Regions from separate parts of the Homo sapiens genome. Here all the other regions are linked to region 3. The links come from fine-mapping of genetic effects on gene expression. A gene starts in region 3. Each other region holds a variant in brackets. All regions are shown on one strand. Distances are between the middles of the regions. Region 1 overlaps SLC35F3 (solute carrier family 35 member F3). Region 2 overlaps SLC35F3 (solute carrier family 35 member F3). Region 3 holds the start of SLC35F3 (solute carrier family 35 member F3). Region 4 overlaps SLC35F3 (solute carrier family 35 member F3).

Region 1 (5,152 bases), 310 kb before region 3:
TGAGCACACACACACACACACCCCTGAAATGAAAGCATCTTGGATCCACTCTGTCTCTTATTACATTTGATAGACAGTGGCAGTTTTTATTCTATTCTAATTCCTTTGATAAGAAATACTTATTGCGACTGATGAAAGAGATTTCATAACCCAGTTTGAACACCACTGCTGCCCATGACCGTCTTTTCTCAGTTTCGGATGGTGTTTTCTTCTCTTCTCTGGCTCCCCCTGTTTCAATCCTGTCTTCCGAGTCCAGCGTTCAGGATGCCTCAGCATCTGCCCATGGTCTAGCTTAACCTCCCCTCCTCCTGCTTCTTCTGATCACTACGCTCTGGCCCAGTAGACTGCCTGCTGGTCTCCCAGCGCCACCCTCTCCTAGCTCTGCGCCTTCGTCTGTGGCTCCCTCTGTCAGGAAATGCTGTGTTCTCACCTCCCACCTCTGACAGCCCAGGGCAGAGGCAAACTCCTCTACCATGCCATCCCGACCGTGCTTCCAGGAAAAGCAGTTCCAATAAATGTTTAGGCCGTCACCTGGAGTGTGGTGACAAGAAGAATTCTGAGGCCACATCCAGGCTCAGCAGGAAAGAGTATCCTGTCAGATCAGGTCATTTTGGCGAAGAAGGGGGTAATGACGGCAAGCAAGAGTGCTGCGCAGGGGCCATCTGCGTCCCAGCCAGAACTGAGTTCACCCTCAGCTGAAATGCAACATTTACTTTATACTTCTTCCATAGAATCAAAAACATTACATTTCAGCATGCATTCTTTATTGGTATGCCTTTCTGACATTCCTCACTCGATTGGAAGCTCTGTTGGATCAAGGATTATGTTTCACTCCTCTTAGAATCCTCCCAAACATCTGGTTCATTCTCTTGCGTATATTAGGTAAAATATTTGATCACTACATGAATGACTTTTGCCACTGAAGTTTCAGACCTAGAGCTAGCCAATCAGGGAAATATTTTGGGTTTGGGGAAACTCTTTGGCAGTATACTTCTCAAGAATCCTCTTGGACTGGGCCAGCATCCTGGGTCTTTATATACTATTAATTGAGCATTCCAGGATAACCGTCTTATCCTGTTGACAGGAACAAGGTAGTCAGACCTACTCTGGGGGCAGCTGAGATCACCCAACACTCCCAAAGGAGAGGCACTAAGAATATGGCACACAGCCATGGGGCCTATGAACCCCCCATGGGGGTCCCAACCACTGAGTTATATTAGTTATATTACAGTGGGAGCTTTTTTTTTTTTTTTTTTTTTGAGATGGAGTCTCTCTATGTCACCAGGTCACCAGGCTGGCGTGCAGTGGCATGATCTGGGCTCACTGCAACTTCCGCCTCCTGGGTTCAAGTGATTCTCCTGCCTCAGCCTCCCAAGTAGCTGGGACTGCAGGTGCACGCCACCATGTCCAGCTAATTTTTGTATTTTTAGTAGTGACAGGGTTTCACCATGTTGGCTAGGATGGTCTTGCTCTCTTGACCTCATGATCCACCCACCTCGGCCTCCCAAACTGCTGGAATTACATACAATGGGAGCTTTAGGGAGCATTTACTGAGCATCTACAAAGTGCCATGAGCTGATATAATTCTCTCTCCTACTCAAATGAAATGCAGTTGTGCAAAGGTCTTGCAACATTTGCAGCCAGGTAGATATAGATTTGAAGCCTGGGATCCTTGCTTTCTAATTACAGTTCCTTCGTGAATGAGTTTTCTGAGCCTCAGTTTCCTTATCTATAAAGTTGGATAACAATACTTACCCTTGCTTAGGGAAAAAATAGAGATAATGGAACAATCTCTCCTAGCATAGTACCTGCAATATAGGAGGCATTCATTAGCAAAAACTATTATTTGAGTATTAAGAGCAAGATGTCATCACCCCTCCTTTCCTAGGACGGAACTGATTCCTGGAGAGCTTTATTCATTAGCCAGAAATCACTCACCTAGCATGACAGCTGGATAGACCCAGTCCATCTAATTCCAAAGCCCTCACCCTTTCCACAACACTA[C/T]TTGCTGCACGCCTCTTGGGGGAATTCATTGTACTGTTCTCAATGATTAATCCCTATTGAATGTAATTTCACTGAACATGAATGAGTTGATTGTGAGTAGAGCTGATCCCAGTAAACACTAGTCTATTAGAGATGTGCTACTGACCAATGCTCTGCTTCTGAAAGGAAAGCCAAGCAAAGGATCTGTGAAAACAAGGTATGTTTTTAGACATGACAGATGCCATCAATCTCGCCAGAACACACTTTTCAAACCTTAACCCCTATCTAAGGCCCAGCCCCACTCTCCTCATGCTTCTGGGCTGAGCCCTAGCATCCATGTTCTCTCTGCCTGAAACTGCCTCTCCTCCCCTCTGCACCAACAAGCTTTCTCATATCCCCCCAGCCTCAGCTGTGATGCCTCATAAGGCCTCCTCCTCAGGAAGGCCCCCTCCTTAGAATGGCTCCATCTTAGAAAGGCCTGTTCCTCAGGAATATCTCCTCAGAAAGGCCTCTTCCTGAGGAAGGCTTCCTTCTTAGATGGCCTCTTCCTCAAAAAGGCCCTTTTGTTAGAATGGCCTCCTCCTCAGAGATCTTTCTGAGGAGGCTTCCCCGGCAAGGCCTTCTCCTTAGAAGCCCTCCTTCTCAGAAAAGCCTCCTCTTCTTAGGAATATCTTCTCCTCAGAAAGGCCTCTTCTTAGAAAGGCCTCCTTCTCAGAAAGGCCTTCCCCTCAGAAAGGCCCCCCTCAGAAAGTATTCCTCTGTAGAAACCCTCCTCCTCATGAAGGCCTCCTCCTCAGGAACACCTCCTCAGATTGCTCAACTCTCAGTGTCCCCGTGACACCTTGCTTTTCAGTTCGATACCAGAACTTACTACTTTGTATTTGATAATTTATCTATCTATCTGTATGTCTCTTCCCCTCTAGACTAAAACGTCCTTAAGAGAATGAAGCTAGAATTGTTCCTTTTTGCCTTTCCAGGGCCTTGCTAAATTGTCACAGGACACAGAGTAGGGTTGGATGAAGTATTTGTTGAGTAAATGAAGTCATCTTGCCCATCTTCCTGTGTTTGAGTTTAACCAAGCTTTGCCTTTTCTATTTTGGTTTTATATGTACCACATGCTGGTGCCTTCTTGCCTCCCCTTAGATGACACACTCTGCAAGCTAATAAATATTCCTCGCTGGCTGCATTCCCTCCCTGTAGCCTGTCTGCCATCCATACAGAAACACCCACAGCATGGGGACCACCTTGCCCTGTGCATTCAAGTTAAAATGAAATGATTCAACACTTCCAAAACCAGCACATAAGATGCAAATGGTTTCCAAAAAATAGACCAAAAGCCAAACTGAATAAAAACACCAAGGAAAAAAACTAGGCAGAGAGAAAGAGCTATATGTGAGCCAGGCATACCAAGAGCAGGTTTTATGAGGCCCCGAGGGGCAGAATTTTGCATGGGATACTTGTAGGTATCCCACGAAAAATGCAACTGGGGGCTTGCCAGGCATTTTCAGCTACCTCTACCTTATTGCATCTCCTCACAGCCTGCTGAAGTAGGTTGTTCCTTCTCTTTTACGTTTGCGGAAACTGAGGCTGTGTTCGTGATTTACACAAATCCAACTGGAAAAGGGGCAGGGCCCAGTCTTGATCCTCAATCTCACCATTTCTTAGTTCACTATACATTTCCGTTATCCACAGGCATTTATGAGGAAATGCTAGTTCCAAAGCCAAGCCCGTGGCGAGGCAGCTGCTGGCGTTAGCAGGTGCAGGAGACTCAAAGCTCTTTTGGCAGCAGCCCTAAGGGACTTTTTGGGGGGTTGGTGGTTAGTGGGAGATAATTTTCACTTTCATTCCCTGAAGGCAACCTCCAGGCTTGGCCATAGGGAAGTACCTGTGCCTCGCATGCCACTCACTGCCTCCTGCAGCACCTCTGAGGCCACAGCACCCAGTTCAGGTAGCCCCACCATCCGCGTCCTGCCCCACTTCCAGTGCAGTTCGAACCTGTCCTGCCTAAGGTGGGCTGGGAGTTTCCCAGGGAGACCCCCTGCTGCTGGAGAGCAGAACCAATCTGTCCTACTAGGAGGTAGGAGTGGGCAGCTTCCCATGAGGACCCTATGAGTGAGCAGACACTCACTCCCTGCTTCCCTCAGAGAAATAAATGGCCAATCCTTCCCTCCCCAATTCACACATGCATGTGGGCAATGTCTGGGTAGGCTTAGAAATACAAACACCCCTGGAAGAGGTAGCACTTGCACTAAACTCAGGTGTAGATGGCTGATATCAAGTCATTCCTGAGGTTGGGATGGAGGAGAGAAGAAGACAGCCACAAGAAGGAAAAAAACCCAACCTCCTAAAGATAGAAAATGTTGAGAAATAGGTAAGTAGTTGCAGTTCAGTGCAAACTGATGTTCTGGAAAAAATGCTTGAGCTTTGGATCGGACAGCCCAGGATTCCATTCCTGCTTCACCACCTACCAACTGTGGGTCTAGGACACGTTAACCCACCTTGCTGGGCCTCACAGTGCTCCTCAGTAGGATGGGGATCACAGTACTAGGGCAGCTGCAGGCAGGCCTGTGTGGACAGCTAAGCTTGGGATATACAATTACCAAGCCAGCCTCTGTCTTGTCCTCGCTGGTTCTGAGATTCATTGTAATAAACAAGAAGTCACGAGTGGGAAGCAGGGTCAACAGTAGCCTAGAGAAGTCCAGGCTTCCTGGGAAGGGCAGAAGCCAGGCTCTGTCGGAGCCCATGGCTGCCCCTCATTCACCGCTGATGCTCATGGGCTCTGTTAGCTCAGCACAAGCAAAAGCCTAGAGGGGAGCTCCTGGGACCCAGGGGATGGTCTGTCTGCCTCACCTGGCCAAGGTGGCTTGCTCCTGGCAGAGGGAGTTAGTCATTCCACCTCTGCCTCCTGGGAGGAGGAGTTAAGAACTGGGACTGGCCCTCTGCCCCCCTTCTCCATTGGAAAGCAAGGCCCCTTAGGCCAGCAGAAGCCAGCTGTGTCTGAGGAAGCTCTCCTCGGTGGGCTGCTTCTTCCCCTGTCCTCTCGCTCACATTTCCTGGGTGGGAGCAGTTCCAGGCAGAAAGGACAACACGGGGAGGAGGACACCTTCTGGGGGCCTCTCACAGCCCTTCCAATCCCTCTCCAGGGCCTGGGAAAGAGCCTGTTTACAGA
Region 2 (5,152 bases), 32 kb before region 3:
TTTATTTATTTAAGTTAGTGTTCTAAGAGCTGACTACCACTTGCAGATCTTGGCAACCTGAAAGAACCAGAAGCATCATAACAAGGATTGGGAAGAATGGATATGCTGGCAGTTCCAAACCCTATGATGGATAATGGAGACTGGGTGCTTAGGGACCCAGTAATCTACTAATAGTTAAGCCGAACGGATGCTTTTTAGTCCTCATCTTCCTTGACTGCAGTGTTGCAGTTTGACATTGTTAACCAATACTGCTTTCTGATAAGTTTTTCCTTTCCTCACTTCTATGACTCAATTTCTTGTATTTGCTTTCCTTTCCGATCATTCAGTTCCCTAGACTAGTTCCTCTGTGTCTATCCATCCACCCATCTTTCCATCCATCCACCTATACTTCCATTCATCCATCCATCCATCCATCCATTCATCCATCCATCCATCCATCCATCCACCCACCAATCCATCCCTCCATCCTTCCATCCATCCATCCATCCATCTATCCATCCATCTGTCCATCCATTGTTAGCTCTTCGTCTTCTCACTGACCTTAGGTATAATTACCTTTTTCCTTAGGTATAATGACCCTTGTGTTGTTCTCTAGCATCCATCCCTTTGATATTAGAATCCCAAAATCCATTTGAAGGGAAATTTCCACTGTGTACAACGTCAGAAGGCAATATTCTTAGGTTGCCTCTCACTGCAGCTTCCTAAGCCAAGGGTATATGATTCTTCAACATTCTACCTCCTAGGAGAGCCACAGAAAGACCATATAACCCGGGTTCAGCCAATCAGATTCCTGTAAATCTTAAGCCAGTACAATGAAGACAGAGGGACAAATTGAAAACTAGCTTTCACAGCTGCAGGCTTTCTTTTGAGGGATGAGCTTTATTGTATTCTCTGCTTGCTAGTATCTGGGGCCCCCACATCATGCCCACTTTTTAGGTCTGGCCATCTATTCTCCTATTGTTTCTGTGAATTTTTAGTTACTTCCAGAAATTTATTTTTTTGCCTATGATGAAAACATTGAATGTCTGTTGCTTTCAACCAAGAACCCCAACTAATCAATGGGGGCAATGGCATTGATTCAAGGCTTCACCTGTCTTCTGTCACCTATAATTTAATGACTATTGTCAACCCAATCTTCTCTCCTGAATTCTGCAAACTACTTTCAACTAATTAACGGACATCACTACCTGAACATTAACAAGTCACCTGAGTCAGAAATTTGAACATCATCCTCCACTCACCCCTCTCCCGCACTCACCAACACTATCGAACTCTGTCTCCCATCCTTGCCCCCTGACTATCCTTGCTTCTATCTCACCTTCTGCATCCCCACTGACCCAGCCTTAGTTGTGACCTTCATCTTCTTTTGCTAAATTATAGCATTAGCTTCCTAACCAGGCAATGCTTTCAGTCCCTTCTCCGTTTTGTTTCAGAGTATATTTTTCAAAATGAAAATTCAATCCCATCACTTCCCTTTTTCAAATACTTCAAAGGTTCTTCTTTGTCTACAAATTTGCCCTTCCAAAACATCAAACAACTCCAGTGGGGCACTTTAGTACTAAAATAAAATAACTGATGTCTCAGGATTCATAGGAAAAGTCCTCATTTTGCTTATTTTGGGCAAGCATAAACAGAGGGATAATCAGATGGCTGGATTATCTTTACTGGTCTCTGCAGGGGCAGAAGTCTTCAGACAGGCAGCCTTGGACAATTTTTCTCTTGACTTTAAAACAAAAGGTGTATCACATCTTGATTTTAACAGAATGGATATCCCAAATACTCTTCATCCATTTAATTTGCATTCAGCTACTTTTTGTATCCTGATCTTTATCAAAGATATCATTTTCTAAATTGCCCTTAATCTCCTTTTTAAAATCTAGGTTCTCACATGAGCAGCACCCTAATTTACCATGAGGCTTTTCTTCTGTCTTTCATTACATTAAGGTTCAGTTCTTCTTGATTTTCCCCTTTCTATGAAACTTGAGGAAGTATCTTATTTTGATGCTGGTGCCAAGTGTTGTGAACTGCTAGATTCATGGGGGTAGATGGGAGTGGAAGCAGGGATGGTAAAATGCTGACTGGCAAGTCTTGTTATCACAAAATGTCAGAGCCTGTAAGAAGACAGAGGTGGCCAGATGCAGTGGTCACGCCTGTAATCTCAACACTTTGGGAGGCCAAGGCAGGAAGATCACTTAAGTTCAGGAGTTCGAGACCAGCCTAGGCAACACAAGGAGGCCCCGTCTCTACAAAACATTTCTGAAAAATCAGCCCAGCATGGTGGCACACACCTGCAGTCCCAGGTACTTGGGAAGCTGAGGTGGGAGGACTGCTTAAGCCTGGGAGGTCAAGGCTGCAGTGAACCATGATCACACCACTGCACTTCAGCTTGGGCGACATAGCAAGACCCTGTCTCAAAAAAAGAAGAAGGAGAAGGAGATGGAGAAAAAGAAGAAGGGGAAGAAAGGAGGAGGAGAAGAGGAAGAAGAAGAAGAATGAGGAGGAGGAGGAGAGGAAGAAGACAGGGAAGAAGAGGAGGAGGAAGAGGAAGGAGGAGAAGAAGAAGAAAGAGGAGGAGGAGGAGGAAGAAGGAGGAGGAGGAG[GAGA/A]ACAAGAAGGTGAAAGAGGCACTGGATAGGATTCAAGAAGGGAAGCATCAAATGTTCCCCACTACCCTCTTGTTCTGAGATGTAGGTTTTTATAATGACAGGCACAGGCTATAAGAAACAGAGAGACGATATTATGATACAGACAGGATAGTATCCTAGAAAAACTTATCCAGTAAAAGTTTACTTGTTGAACTGAGCTGGAGATGTCACTCTGTCTGCTGCTCTCCTTTTATAAACAATTACCAAAATATCAATAACATCTCCTTTCTTCCTATCTTCCTTTTCTATCTTCACTAGGCTAACCTGCAACCCTGGGGGGGCCATGGCTACTGAAAAGGAATGATCTCAGATAGGTAATAATATTTACCTCTTCTTCTCTGGTCTTTTTACCAGCACCAAAAACAAATACATAGTTAACACTACTTAAAACCTACAACCAAATTCTACTTCTGCTTAGGATGCAGAAAGACCCAAGAGAAAATTACAAGAGAAAGCTGGACAGTCAACAGAATTATGTTATTTATTGAGCCCATCAAGAGCTGAGGTTGTTGAAAGGCAAACAAACTGAATTCAAGTGCCAAGCACTCCTGAGTTAATATGAAACACACCGTCTGCTTTACCTTTAGCAGAGGATGAATGAAAAAGGAGGCATCCATACCAATGAGTAACAAGGAATCAGCTACATTTTAAATGAATCCTTAAAGGCAAAATATAGAGTAACGTGTCAATTTGGAATAGGTGGATGTCTCAGGCACAGGGAAGCTTGCACTCGGGCTCAAGTTCTTACCCCTGAGCCTCCACTAAGTAGCTCATGAGAGGAACTGGGGCAGGGCAAGAGACAGAAAGAGCCTCTCAAGGCAACATAAGCTTGTGGGAGGTGATCAGATAGTTGCTGCTGGGGACAGGCATAAAGCCCTGCCTACTTTCTCAACCCTTACAGAAAGCAAAAGTCTTAAGTCACTGGACAGCAAACTCCGTCAACCTAGGGCCAAGGAAAAAAAAATCGGTTGCTTCTGGGTTAGGAGTAGGATAAACTTCAGCTCACTTTGAGGACAATATAGGAAGTGCCCTGCCTCCAGGATACAGGCAAAGGTCAATTGCTGCTGGAGGAAAGTTAGAAGAGGCAGTCAAACACACTCAAACCTAAATCAATTCCCAGCTAGACTGACTCAACCTTCCACTAATGGCCTGACACAAAAAGATGTGTGTCCACTTTTGGATATCAATAATGTATGGCTCAGTCTCTTCTGTTCTTTTCCACACAATAGCCAGTATTCAATCATGTATTTTCAGGTATGCAAAAAAAAAAAAAAAAAAAAAAAAAAAAGGGCAAGGAAAACCCAGCTCATTGTGAAGAAATAAAGCCATCAATAGAACCAGATGCAGAGACAACCTGGTTTCACCAGAATGAAACTTTAAAATAATCATGACTGAAATGTTAAGGTATCTAGTGGAAAAGCAAGTAAACATACATAACATATGGGAATTTCAGCACAGAGATCTTGCCTGGAAGTCAGCTCTTGCAAAGGGATATTAAAATTACAAAGAAAACCTAAAGCTTCCAAGAAGCATGATAAGATCCCATTTTTCACATGATACACTGATTAGAATGTATGTAAGCTATCTTGATCATCCTGGCAGAATACCAGGCTAGACACAGCTTCTTTGTAAAAGACAGGATCCACTTAGATTTTCATTGAAACATTGTTTATCTGCATAGGGAGCTACCTTTGCTTCAGAGGGAAAGCCAGTGGCTTTTTTGATTATTTTAAAATTAATAAGATCTCCTGTATAGTGGTATCTGAAAAAATCACTTACATGCCAGTAATATTCTGTTTCTTGCTCTAGATGCAGTAAAGAAAGGTATATTCATTTTGTAATAATTCATCAAGCTGTACACTTATAATTAACATTCATTTCATTTTGGATATTTTACTTCAACAAGAAGTGTATTTTTAAGACAGCTCATTAAAATATCTCTGTAATAATTGATTTTTTTCTTGTCTAATGGTAATTTGTAAAACAAGATAAATGCACATGTAACTCAATAGTATAACCCATCTAGCTGACTAGTTATTATCAGGGAAATTATTTGCTTTACATGGGTGTATTCGTGAAGGTTGATTTTAAGAATAAGGAATTCATACATATAGAAAAAACCTAGAAACAAATGTAATGGCAACTCAAGCAGCAAATTAATGTCTTAGAAAGTGGGGAAGTGTCTTAGAAAATGAGGAACTGAATATTAACCCCTGGGGCACTCAGTTTCCCCTAAAACCTCACTTAAGGAAGCTTACCTGAATAAAGGCCACTTTTAATGTGTAGGATAAAATATGCATCCGGTTCATAGCCTGAATACTTCTGAACCTAAAGACATACTCTGAATTCACTTTGAAGAATAACTGATATCCTATGCTATCCTTAGCAGCATGTGAAAAACTCTGAGCAAGTTATGCAATCATGTTTCAAATGGAATAAAGCACTTCCCGCTAAACTCTAGACTATTTGTGCTAATAGAGTAGAAAACAAAGAGGAGTGAATAGCCTCAA
Region 3 (5,152 bases):
AGCTATTAATCTAGTCTTTATTACAAATGAAAGACGTCAAGGCCCATTTCTCATACGGACTGAGGTGGCAAATGGCAATCTCTTATGTCAAACTACAGTGATGAGACCACCTAATTATGGTTATATTTATAGATATCTGGATTTCATCATAATCAACCTCTCTCTTGCAAAGTGAGAAAAAGAAATGTCCACCAAATTAGTCCTGGTGACATAAGATAATGTCTGTCTAATTGATCACAGCATCCTCAAAGCCATTAGCTAGGACCCACGGAAAGAAAAACATTTCAGCTTCTCCACCTGACACCAAACATTCAACTTGCAGGGACCAACACCACTATCTAGAATGATCCCTATAGAACCTCCTTACTGAAGACCGATAAAATCCAGGGGAGAAGGGCGTGAACGGCATCCAAAATGAAGACCCCAAGAATTGTCCTCTATCATCAGGGCTAGGAGATGCAAGGAAGAGTTAAAATCCTGGCTATGTAAGTCAGCATCTCCATCTGAGCCTGGTGAGACCTGACCGAGGGCCCTGTGAGACTTTCAGATCCGCGGGGAAGCCACACTGTCCGGGATACTTTGAGTTTCTGATCTGTTTCCCACGGTCTGCCACATAGGAGTGTCCTCCGTATTTGGCAGTGGAGAGATAAGGATACAGAGAGATCCTGTGTGTGGGAGAGGAAGGGGTGTAAGAGAACGCATCAGAACGCCTCAGAGGTCCAGGAGAACTCCGTCTCCGGGCCTCTTCCTCGAAGTTGCAAACCTGGGTCTGTATCAGCAGGCAGGGCGGGAGGGGGTGGCTGGACGCCTCACTGCGTGCGCTCCCCGAGGCTGCTGTGACAATGGTAAGAAGATGGACCAGTGAACGGGAAACATGACGTGAGGGGGTCTTACTTTTGCAGCTCGCTGCCCAGGGCTGGTAGCCATAGTAGCCAGTGATGCGCAGGATCCGCTCCTCGATGGACGTGAGCCCCACCGGCCCGCTGGTGAGATCCTCCACGGAGCGCGACCATTTCAGATCCTCCTTAATCGCCTCGTCCACCACCAAGTACTTGAGCTGCCGGAGCTGGGGGCTGATGTCGGACAGTCTCCGGGGGCTGACGTCCGGTGACCTCCTCATGCCACTGCGGTCGCAGGCGCCACGGGCAGGTGGGTGGGCAGGGGGAGCATGGACAGAGAGGAGGGGATTCGTGAGGAGCAGATCCCAGGGCGAGAGCAAGAGCGCGGCCGGGGCCCTCCGGGGGCGAGCGCCGCGGCAGAGCCCGCGCTCCTCCCTTCCCGCCGCCACTCACCCACTTCCCCGGGCAGCTGTCCCCAGTGCCCTATCCTGGGCGTCTCGGGGCAGTGCGGGTTGGGGCGAGTGGCGAGGGAAAGAATGACTGAAACTTCCCGAGCAGCTCCACCGCGCGCGCCGCCCTTCCCCGAGCCTCAGACTGCCCAGTGTCCCAGCTGCAAAGGGCTACCCCGGCGCTCCGGCCTCCCGCCCGCCGGCTCGCTCACCCACGCCCGGGGCGCTACTCACACGGCAATGCTCTTGCCCCTGGGTGCGCCGCTGGGAAACTCTCGAATCCCCATAGGCAAAGACAGAGTGGGACCGGCAGCTCCCAGACTTGAGGCGGAGGGGCCGCGGGCCGGAGCTCCCTGCAGCCGCTAGCCTGGGAAGACTGGAGTGCGCTGCCCACCGAGGGTCTGCGCCGCGCCGGCCGCCCCGGGCCGCTTTGTGCGCGCCCGCGCGGTCTGTACCCGAGCGCCTCCGCGGCGTGCGGCACGATGCAGGCGCGGCGGTTCAGCCCGGTGACTCCAGGCCGGCCCGCGCGCTCGCCGCAACGACCCGGCAGCCGAGGCAGCGCCGCGCCCCACGCCCGTCACCGTCGCCGCCGCCCTAGCACACCGCAGGCGTGAGTCTCGCCGCGACCGGGAGAGCCCTCCCAGCTGTGCGCTCTCGAGGCACCTGGTCGGGCGGGGAGGCGTCGGGTCGGGGCGCACAGGGGCCAGGCGGGGGCGCTGCTGCCCACTTCCCGCCTCCCGGGCGTGCGCTCCGCCCCGGAGCCCGCACCTCGCGCCCGCGCTCCGCCTGGAAGCCTTGGGGCACCGGACGCGCTCCTCCACCCTTCTCTTTTGACTCAAACCCTGCCGCTCCCAGTTCAGTACTTTTCTCTCTCTCTCTCACACTCTCTCTCTCTCTCTCTCTCTCTCTCTCTCTCTCTCTCTCTATGTATATGTCTGTCTCTCTCTTTCTCTAAATTAGCAAAACTACTTGGAAAGAAAGAAACCTGGTTCCATGCTCAGCATGCCAAGTGAATAAATGGCGTTTCATAGGCAACGCTGAGACACAAAATGTATTATCTATTACGCTGTGGGGATCTCTCAGTCAGACCTGGTCCTCAGAGAGCTTACTTTCCCACTGATGATGCAATTACGAAATCAGTTCTCTCTTCATAGATTTCCATTTTAAAAGCTTCTCATCTTTTTCCTTACCACCCCACTGCCCCCGACGGCCGAAAGGCATTCTCTTCAGACTACCTAATCACCTTTCCTAATATTATTTTTCATCGGGGCAAATTTAGAAAAGATAGAAGTATGTGGAGAAGAAAATATCCATTATCCAGCCAAAAATGACGACTTTCAATTATGAACGTATTCTCTTCCAGGCTTTTTTCCAACGCAAAATACAGTTGTCACAAAAATCGGAATGAAATTGTACACACTACTTTATGTACTGCTTTTTTTATATTAAAATCATATTGTATAGCAGCAAACTATGAATAGAGGGGAACTTTCTCAACTTGAAAAAGAACATTTACAAAAGCGTACAGCTAACACCATGCTTAATGGTGAGAAACTAGAAGCTTTCCTGTTAAAATAAGGAACAGGGCAAGTATGTCTCTACTCAGCAATCCTTTTCAGCATCATACTGAAAGTCCCAGCTAATGAAATTAGACAAGAAAAGGAAATTAAAAGTATACGTATTGTGAAGGAAAAGGTAAAAGAAAACTGTCTTTGCAGCTGACATGACTGTTGATGTAGAAAAATTTCAATTGACAAAAAAACTCTCCTGTTACTAATAAGCAATTATGGTAAGATTGAAGGATACAAAATTAATGTACAAAAGTCAACTGCTTTTCTATATACTAGCAACGAACAATGGGAATTTGAAATTAAAACCACAATACTATTTATATTAGCACACCACTCAAATGAAATATTTAGGTACAAATCTAATAAATATGTACAATATCTATATGAGAAAAACTACAAAACTGTGATGAAAGAAATCAAAGAACTAAATAAATAGAGAGATATTTTATGTTCATGGATGGAAAAATTTAATATTGTTAAGATGTCAGTTCTTCCCAACTTCATCTATAGATTCAAAGTAATTCCAATCAGAATCCCAGGAGGTTATTTTGTGAATATCACAAACTGATTCTCAAGTTTATATGAAAAGGCAAAAGACCCATAATAGCCAACACAATATTAAAGGAGAAGAACAAAGTCTGAGGACTGATATTGCCCAACTTCAAGACTTACTATAGTTACAGTAATCAAGACAGTGTGGTATTGGTGAAAGAGCAGACAAATAGATTAATGGAACAGAATAGAGAGGCCAAGATAGACCCACACATAGAGTCAAGTGATCTTTGACAAAGGAGCAAAAGAAATCTAATGGAGAAAAGATCACCTTTTCAACAAATGGTGCTAGAACAACTAGACATCCAATCACAAAAAAAAAAAAGAAAGAAAGAGAGAAAAAAAGAAAAGAAGCTGGATACATAGATACAGACCTTACACCTTTCACAAAAATTAACTCAAAATAGATCATAGACCTAAATATAAAATGCAAAACTATAAAACTCTTAGAAGATAAAAAGGAGAAAACCTAGGTGACCTTGGGTTTGTAAATGACATTTTAGATACAACATCAAAGGCATGATCCATGAAAGTAAAAATTGGTATTGGACTTCGTTAAGATTAATAACTTCTGCTCTACAAAAGACACTGTTAAAACAATGGGAAGAAAAGCTACAGACCAATAGAAAATATGTCAAATCATATACATGATTAAGAACTGTAATAAAAAATAAGAATAATTAGAACTCAACAATAAGAAAATGATCCCAATTAAAAAATTGGCAAAACAGCTGAACAAACATATCAATAGAGATGATATACAGATGGTAAATCAGCACATGAAAAGATGCTCCACATCATACATCATTAGGGAATTCCAAATTAAGACAAAAAAGATGTATTGCTATACACCTACTAGAATGAATAAAATCCCAAACGCTGACAACATCAAATGCTGGCAGGATGTGGAACAGCAAGAAGTCTCTCATTCATTGCTGGTGGGAATGCAAAATGGTACAGCACTTTGGTAGACAGTTTGAGTTCCTTACAAAATTAATCATACTGTTACCATGCAACCCATCAGTCATGCTCCTTGATATTTACCTGGATGAGTTCAAAACTTAAGTCCCCACAAAAATCTGCACACAAATGTTTATAGGAACTTTTTTCATGATTGCCAAGATGTCCTTCAGTAGCTGAATGAATAAACATACTGTGGTACATCCATACAAAAGAATATTCCGTTCAGTGATAAAATGAGCTATCAAGCTGCAAAAAGACATGAAGGAAATTGAAAACATATTGCTAAGTGAAAGAAACCGGTCTGAGAGAGGCAAAACTATGGAGATAGTTTAAAGATCACTGGTTCCCAATGGTTGGGGAGAGGATGGGATGAACAGGCAGAACACAGAGGATTTTTAGGGCAGTGGGTTGATTTTGTATAGTACTGTAATGGTAGATATATATCATTATACATATGTCAAAACTCAGTGGATGCACAACCCTAAGAGTTAACCCCAATGTAAACTATAGACTTTGGGTGATAGTGATGTGTCAATGTTGGCTCATTATTTGTAACGAATGTACCACTGGTGCAGGATGTTGACGTGGGTGGAGAGAAGCTGTGGGTGTGTGACAGGGGGAAGGTATTTAAAAACTTTCTGTACTTTCTCCTCAAATTTGCTGTGAACCTGAAATCGTTCTTTAAAAAAAGTCTATTTTAAAAACTTCATTATGCTGCTTTTCTATGTCACTATGTTCTTCTAAAATATTTTCCAGTTTTATTAAGGTTAAGTGACAA
Region 4 (5,152 bases), 340 kb before region 3:
ACAATGGACCAGCCAACCGACCCACCAAACAATGGACCAGCCAACCAACCCACTGAACAATGGACCAGCCAACCGACCCACAGAACAACTGACCAGCCAACCAGCCCCCCAAACAATGGACCAGCCAACCAACCTACTGAACAATAGACCAGCCATTCAACCCACCAAACAATGGACCAGCCAATCAACCCACTGAACAACGAACCAGGCAACCAACCCACTGAACAATGGACCATCCAATCAACCTACTGAACAATGGACCAGCCAAGCAATCCACCAAGCAATGGACCAACCAACCAACCAACCCACCAAACAATGGACCAACCAACCAACCCACCAAACAATGGACCAGCCAACCAACCCACCTAAAAATGGACCAGCCAACCAACCTACCGAACAATGGAACAGCCAACCAAACTATCAAACAATGGACCAGCCAATCAACTGACCAACCCAACAATCAAATGACAAAGTTTAAAACCATTGCTCTATTATACACATATGCACACATAGACACATGCATACATGCACCCATGCATTCACATAATTCCACTACTCCCTGCCACACAGAGTTTCTCTTCTTTTTTTGTTTCAAGCACCTAGCACCCAACCTTCCCATACAACTTGGGCTTGGAACTATTTAAGACACCATTGCTGGTGCTCAAGCTCCCACCTGTTTGGTTTCACACCTTGGTTTCCAGGTTTCCAGCCCCATGAACTGGTAACTGGGTCTTGAACTTGGCTGTGGTTTCTGCTATTTTGAGACCATCACACCCTGCCGTGTCTGCCACCTCCTCTGTGCTGTGCCTGGCTCCTAGGACAGCACCATGGTCTGGCCTTACCCCCGACCGACACCATCTGACTTGAACACATACAGCAGCCGACAGGGCCTCCCAATTCTCAGAGCACTCAACCTACAGAGCCACAATAGCACTCTGCTCTGCTGTTCTCACCACTTCTGGGAGTGATTTCTTATTCATGCCTTAACTCAGCATATGGCTGTTTCTGTTTTACGTGTGGTTTTTATTAATGCTAGGTCCCCTGGCAGTTCAGTGCATAAAAGGATGTGACTTGGGTTATACATGACTGTGTTGTCAGTGGCCTGCATTACTGTACTTCTTGGGCACTATTTGCATAAAAATACTTCACCTATTCAGAAGGGGAAAACATCAGTATGGAAAAAGGAATCCAGAAGATTCATGGACAGAAAACACATCGTGTGTTTGCTCTTATCATTTGGCAGCTCCAGAGTAGTTTTCCACTCTCTGAATAATTTATTATCACTTTTATTAGTCCTCTCTATCCAGGTTGATATTATTTTCTGCTTTACTGATACAGGCCCTGCTTCTCAGAGAAAGGAGACAGCAGATGCTGCAGCTGAAGTCTGGGGGAACCTGGGTAGGTCCCAGGGTGTCTAGAAGGGCTTGAAGCTAGACCAGCTGCACCCAAAAGCTTGGGGGTAAATCAGGGTCCTGATTGCTCTCTGGGGTCAGGTTAGAGAAAGTGAACTGCTGCTGCCCTGGTAGAATTCTCCATCTGAGCCACTCCTCCTGCCTCCCAAACCCCAAGCCTCTGCCACTGGCAGCCTTTCCTAGCCCAGTAACACATCTTCCTAACAGAGGCCAGTGTACTACTCTCTCTAAACACCACCTTTGCTTCAGATGCTGTGGAAGATAATATTTTCCAAAGGTGGTAGCAGCAATACCTCCCATTCCATGTACTCTTCCCCGAGATGATCTTGCCACCCTCCAGTCAAGAGGCAAAGTTGATGTCCCCCTCCCCCTTGAAACTGGGCAGGCTCGTAACTGCCTTGACATAAACTATGGTGGAAGTGACACTATGTGACTTTGAGGCTAGGTCCTAAAAGGAATGGAGTTTCTGCTGTGTGTCCACTGATCCCTCTGGGGCTCTGAGCTGCAACCATGAACGCAGTGTGATTACCACGGACCACCCTCCTGTGAGGAAGCCCAGGCCATCAGAAGAGGCCAAGTGTAGACCCTCAGGTTGACAGCTCCAGCTTAGGTGGCCCATGACAACCAGCATCAACTTCCAGACATTGGAGGAAGACAACAGATGTGCCTAGCCCCCAGCTGTTGAGTTGCCCCCTCCAGCACACGCTCTAAGCATCATGGAGCAGGGGAAAAGCCATCCCTTGATGCCAACAAAGGAGTTGTTAATGCCATTAAGGTTCAGATTAGTTTGTTAAAGAGTAATAGTAACTGAAACAGATGTAGGTTCTCAAATCCCATAGCAGGAAGCAATCCCATTGCTGGGTATTTATCCAAAGGAAAATAAATCAGTATCTCAAAGGGATACCTGCACTCACATGTTTATCACAGCACTATTCACAACAGCCAAGATATGGAATCAACTTATGTGTCCATCAATGGACAAATGGATAAAGAAAATGTGGCATATATACACAATGGAATACCATTCCGCTGTAAAAAGGAATGAAATCATGTCATTTGCAGCAACATGGATGGAACTGGAGGTCATTCTGTTAATTGAAATAATCCAGGCACAGAAAGAGAAATACTGCATGTTCTCACTCATGCAGGAGCTAAAAACACTTGATCTCAAGGACACAGAGAACAGAATAATAGTACCAGAGACTGGGAAAGGTAGGTGGTGGTAGAGGGTAGGAGTGAAGTGAAGTTGGTTAATGGGGACAAACATACAGTTAGATAGAAGAAAAGAGTACTAAGGAAAAAGACTAGGGTGACGATGCTTAGCAAACAATATTTTGTGTATTTCAAACTAATGAGAAGAGAGGACATGAAATGATATCAATGCATAAAAATGACAAATACTCAAAGTGATGGAAACCCCCAATAGTGACTTGATCATTACATAGTCTATGCATGTAAAAAACACATTTACACATAATATATATTTTATATTGATAAAAAAGTTAGCAGGACTTTAAAGACCCTAAATGCACAAATCCTCTAAATTCTTCTCTTCCAGGACTCAGTGAGCTT[T/A]AGGAACTTGTGAAATTCTAGCCAGTATAAATGTGGAATTGAAACTTCCTGAAGATGGGTTTTTACTCTCAGTTCAATCAGATGGCATAATGGAACTTCCCCTCTGCTAGTCTACTAATTTCAGACCTGACTAATTTCCAAAAAAAAAAAAAAGTGATAATCAAGCACTTCTTTTTCTAAAACTTACTTTGTCATTCAAGGGCTCTTTCTGAATAGGATTAGTTTATCATTCTGGATGATAGAGGAACAGCTTCTTATAAGGACAGAGGGAAATGATTCCTGCATTGCTCCTTGGAGACTGCCTGCCGAGAGCTGATCTTAGCAAGTCTACTCTGATTGTGAACATGATATTGATATCACCACCACTGCCCATGGATAGTTTCTTCCTTCCCCCAACCCCTTTCTACCAGCACCCCACCGGGCACTGTGCAAGGTGCTGGGGACATGCAGGTGAGCAAGACGGACATGATCCCTGTCCTTGTGGTGTTCAAAGATTGACATTTTCTGTCCAGATACTCTTTAAAAATTTTTATTATATTCAGAATAAAAATAAAGCCACATGGAAGCTTTTGGCCAATAAGGATATCTAAGTATGCATGGTAGAGGATGTAGGCTCTCAGACTGACTCCAACTCTGAGCTTGTGGGGAGAGATGGAGATCATACTAATCAATGTCATGCTAGCTGTTATGCCAAACTCTTCTGTTCAGAGGCTTGGCACACAGAAGTTTAGTTTTGATTCATGTTACTGGTTGACAGGTGTCATTTCACCCGTTGGTGAGCCTTCTCCCACCTTGCAGCTATGCAATCCCTTGAAGCCTGGGGATTCTGTGATGTGGCCAGTGGAACAGGGAAGTGGAGGAAAATGCCCATCTGCTTATTATCTGTCTTGGTTGACTGCTAGCCATTTGGAGGGAAGTCACTTAGCCCAAGTTAGATGCCAGGGGAGGCTGGGAGATGTAGTAGTCTCTGGCTGCACAGCCCTCCCTGCAGCAACCCTGCACTGTAGCAGGAGCAGGGATCTTGGCTTCAGAGTCACCCATCTCTGTCTCAGAATGATGTGGTTTTGCAAAGTCAAACGGGACACCAGTGGCTTGCTTAGGACTCCTGAGAGCTGGGGGCTTGGCCAGGAAACCTAGAAGGTGCCAACCTTCCTCTTTAGAGAAGATCTATTACACCTCCTACATCCTCTAAAAGGATTCTGCAAAATGCACGTTTACATGTGTCCCTCAATCTACTTTGTGAATTCCCTCCACTTGCTACATGCGAGAAAACATCTTTACCAAGAGACAAAGGCACTTTCTAAGCTGGGCATAAATACACCAACTTTTGTCCAACTTTAATAACAGTCGGTTATCTAATAATAAAGTGTTATTGGGGATACGCAGGTGAGCATACCCCCAGTAACACTTTATTATTTTTTTTTGAGGCGGAGTCTCACTCTGTCGCCCAGGCTAGAGTGCAGTGGCGTGATCTCTGCAACCTCTGTCTCCCAGGTTCAAGTGATTCTCGTGCCTCAACCTCCCGAGTAGCTGGAATTACAGGTGTGCACCACCACGCCCAGCTAATTTTTTTGTATTGTTAGTAGAGACAGGGTTTCACCATGTTGGACAGGCTGGTCTTGAACTCCTGACCTCAAATGATCTGCCTGCCTTGGCCTCTCAAAGTGCTGGGATTACAGGCATGAGCTACCACACCCGGCCAAAACAAAACACTTTTAACCAATAAGCATTTGGAAGACCCATTCCCCCTACTCCCCCACTAATTCATAGTAAAATACTGATAAGCCTGTCTCCATTTTGTTGGTGAAACACTTAAAGTCTTTCTTTGACAAAGTTCTCTTCTGTTTTTCCCTGAGAAACATGTAGCAAAATAATGCTATCTAGTGTTTCTAATGATGTGTTCCTGCAACAAGGGAGCTTTAATATCCAGTGCTTTTAATTTATTTTGTCATAAATTAATAAAGTATATATGATTGAGAGTAACTCATTAAATGTAAGTGTCATAAAATAAGGCACTTAGGTAAGAAAAGCGTGAAATGCTTCTGATGCACTCCTGAATGTTACATTAAGTACATAAATCATCTTTGTTTTCTCTCTGCTCAACAAAGAATCCAGCCTAGGAGGTGTATGTAATTAGTATAGTTGTATTTTAAATGATCCAGGAAGCA

Evidence for each region. PIP is the estimated chance that this variant, and not a neighbour inherited with it, causes the effect.
Region 1: its variant is the best candidate, but not a certain one, in a credible set for the expression of SLC35F3 in whole blood (TOPMed, PIP 0.86).
Region 2: its variant is the best candidate, but not a certain one, in a credible set for the expression of SLC35F3 in lung (TOPMed, PIP 0.82).
Region 4: its variant is the best candidate, but not a certain one, in a credible set for the expression of SLC35F3 in whole blood (INTERVAL, PIP 0.81).

Annotation. Positions count from the first base shown.
Region 1 is chr1:234,215,163-234,220,314 of GRCh38, reverse strand. All of the region lies in intron 2 of SLC35F3 (solute carrier family 35 member F3), which reads right to left. Among named protein-coding and RNA genes, the nearest start is that of SLC35F3-AS1, 55 kb to the left of the region's middle. RefSeq lists an enhancer at 3,919-4,008. The variant C/T (reference allele first, on the strand shown) is at 2,005.
Region 2 is chr1:233,933,968-233,939,119 of GRCh38, reverse strand. The region is part of intron 2 of SLC35F3 (solute carrier family 35 member F3); the gene reads right to left. Among named protein-coding and RNA genes, the nearest start is that of SLC35F3, 32 kb to the right of the region's middle. The variant GAGA/A (reference allele first, on the strand shown) is at 2,601.
Region 3 is chr1:233,901,501-233,906,652 of GRCh38, reverse strand. It overlaps SLC35F3 (solute carrier family 35 member F3), which reads right to left and starts at 1,977. Exons shown (of 8, transcript NM_173508.4): 1 at 1,523-1,977; 2 at 895-1,124. The coding sequence starts at 1,575.
Region 4 is chr1:234,242,604-234,247,755 of GRCh38, reverse strand. All of the region lies in intron 3 of SLC35F3 (solute carrier family 35 member F3), which reads right to left. Among named protein-coding and RNA genes, the nearest start is that of SLC35F3-AS1, 28 kb to the left of the region's middle. RefSeq lists an enhancer at 793-932. The variant T/A (reference allele first, on the strand shown) is at 2,985.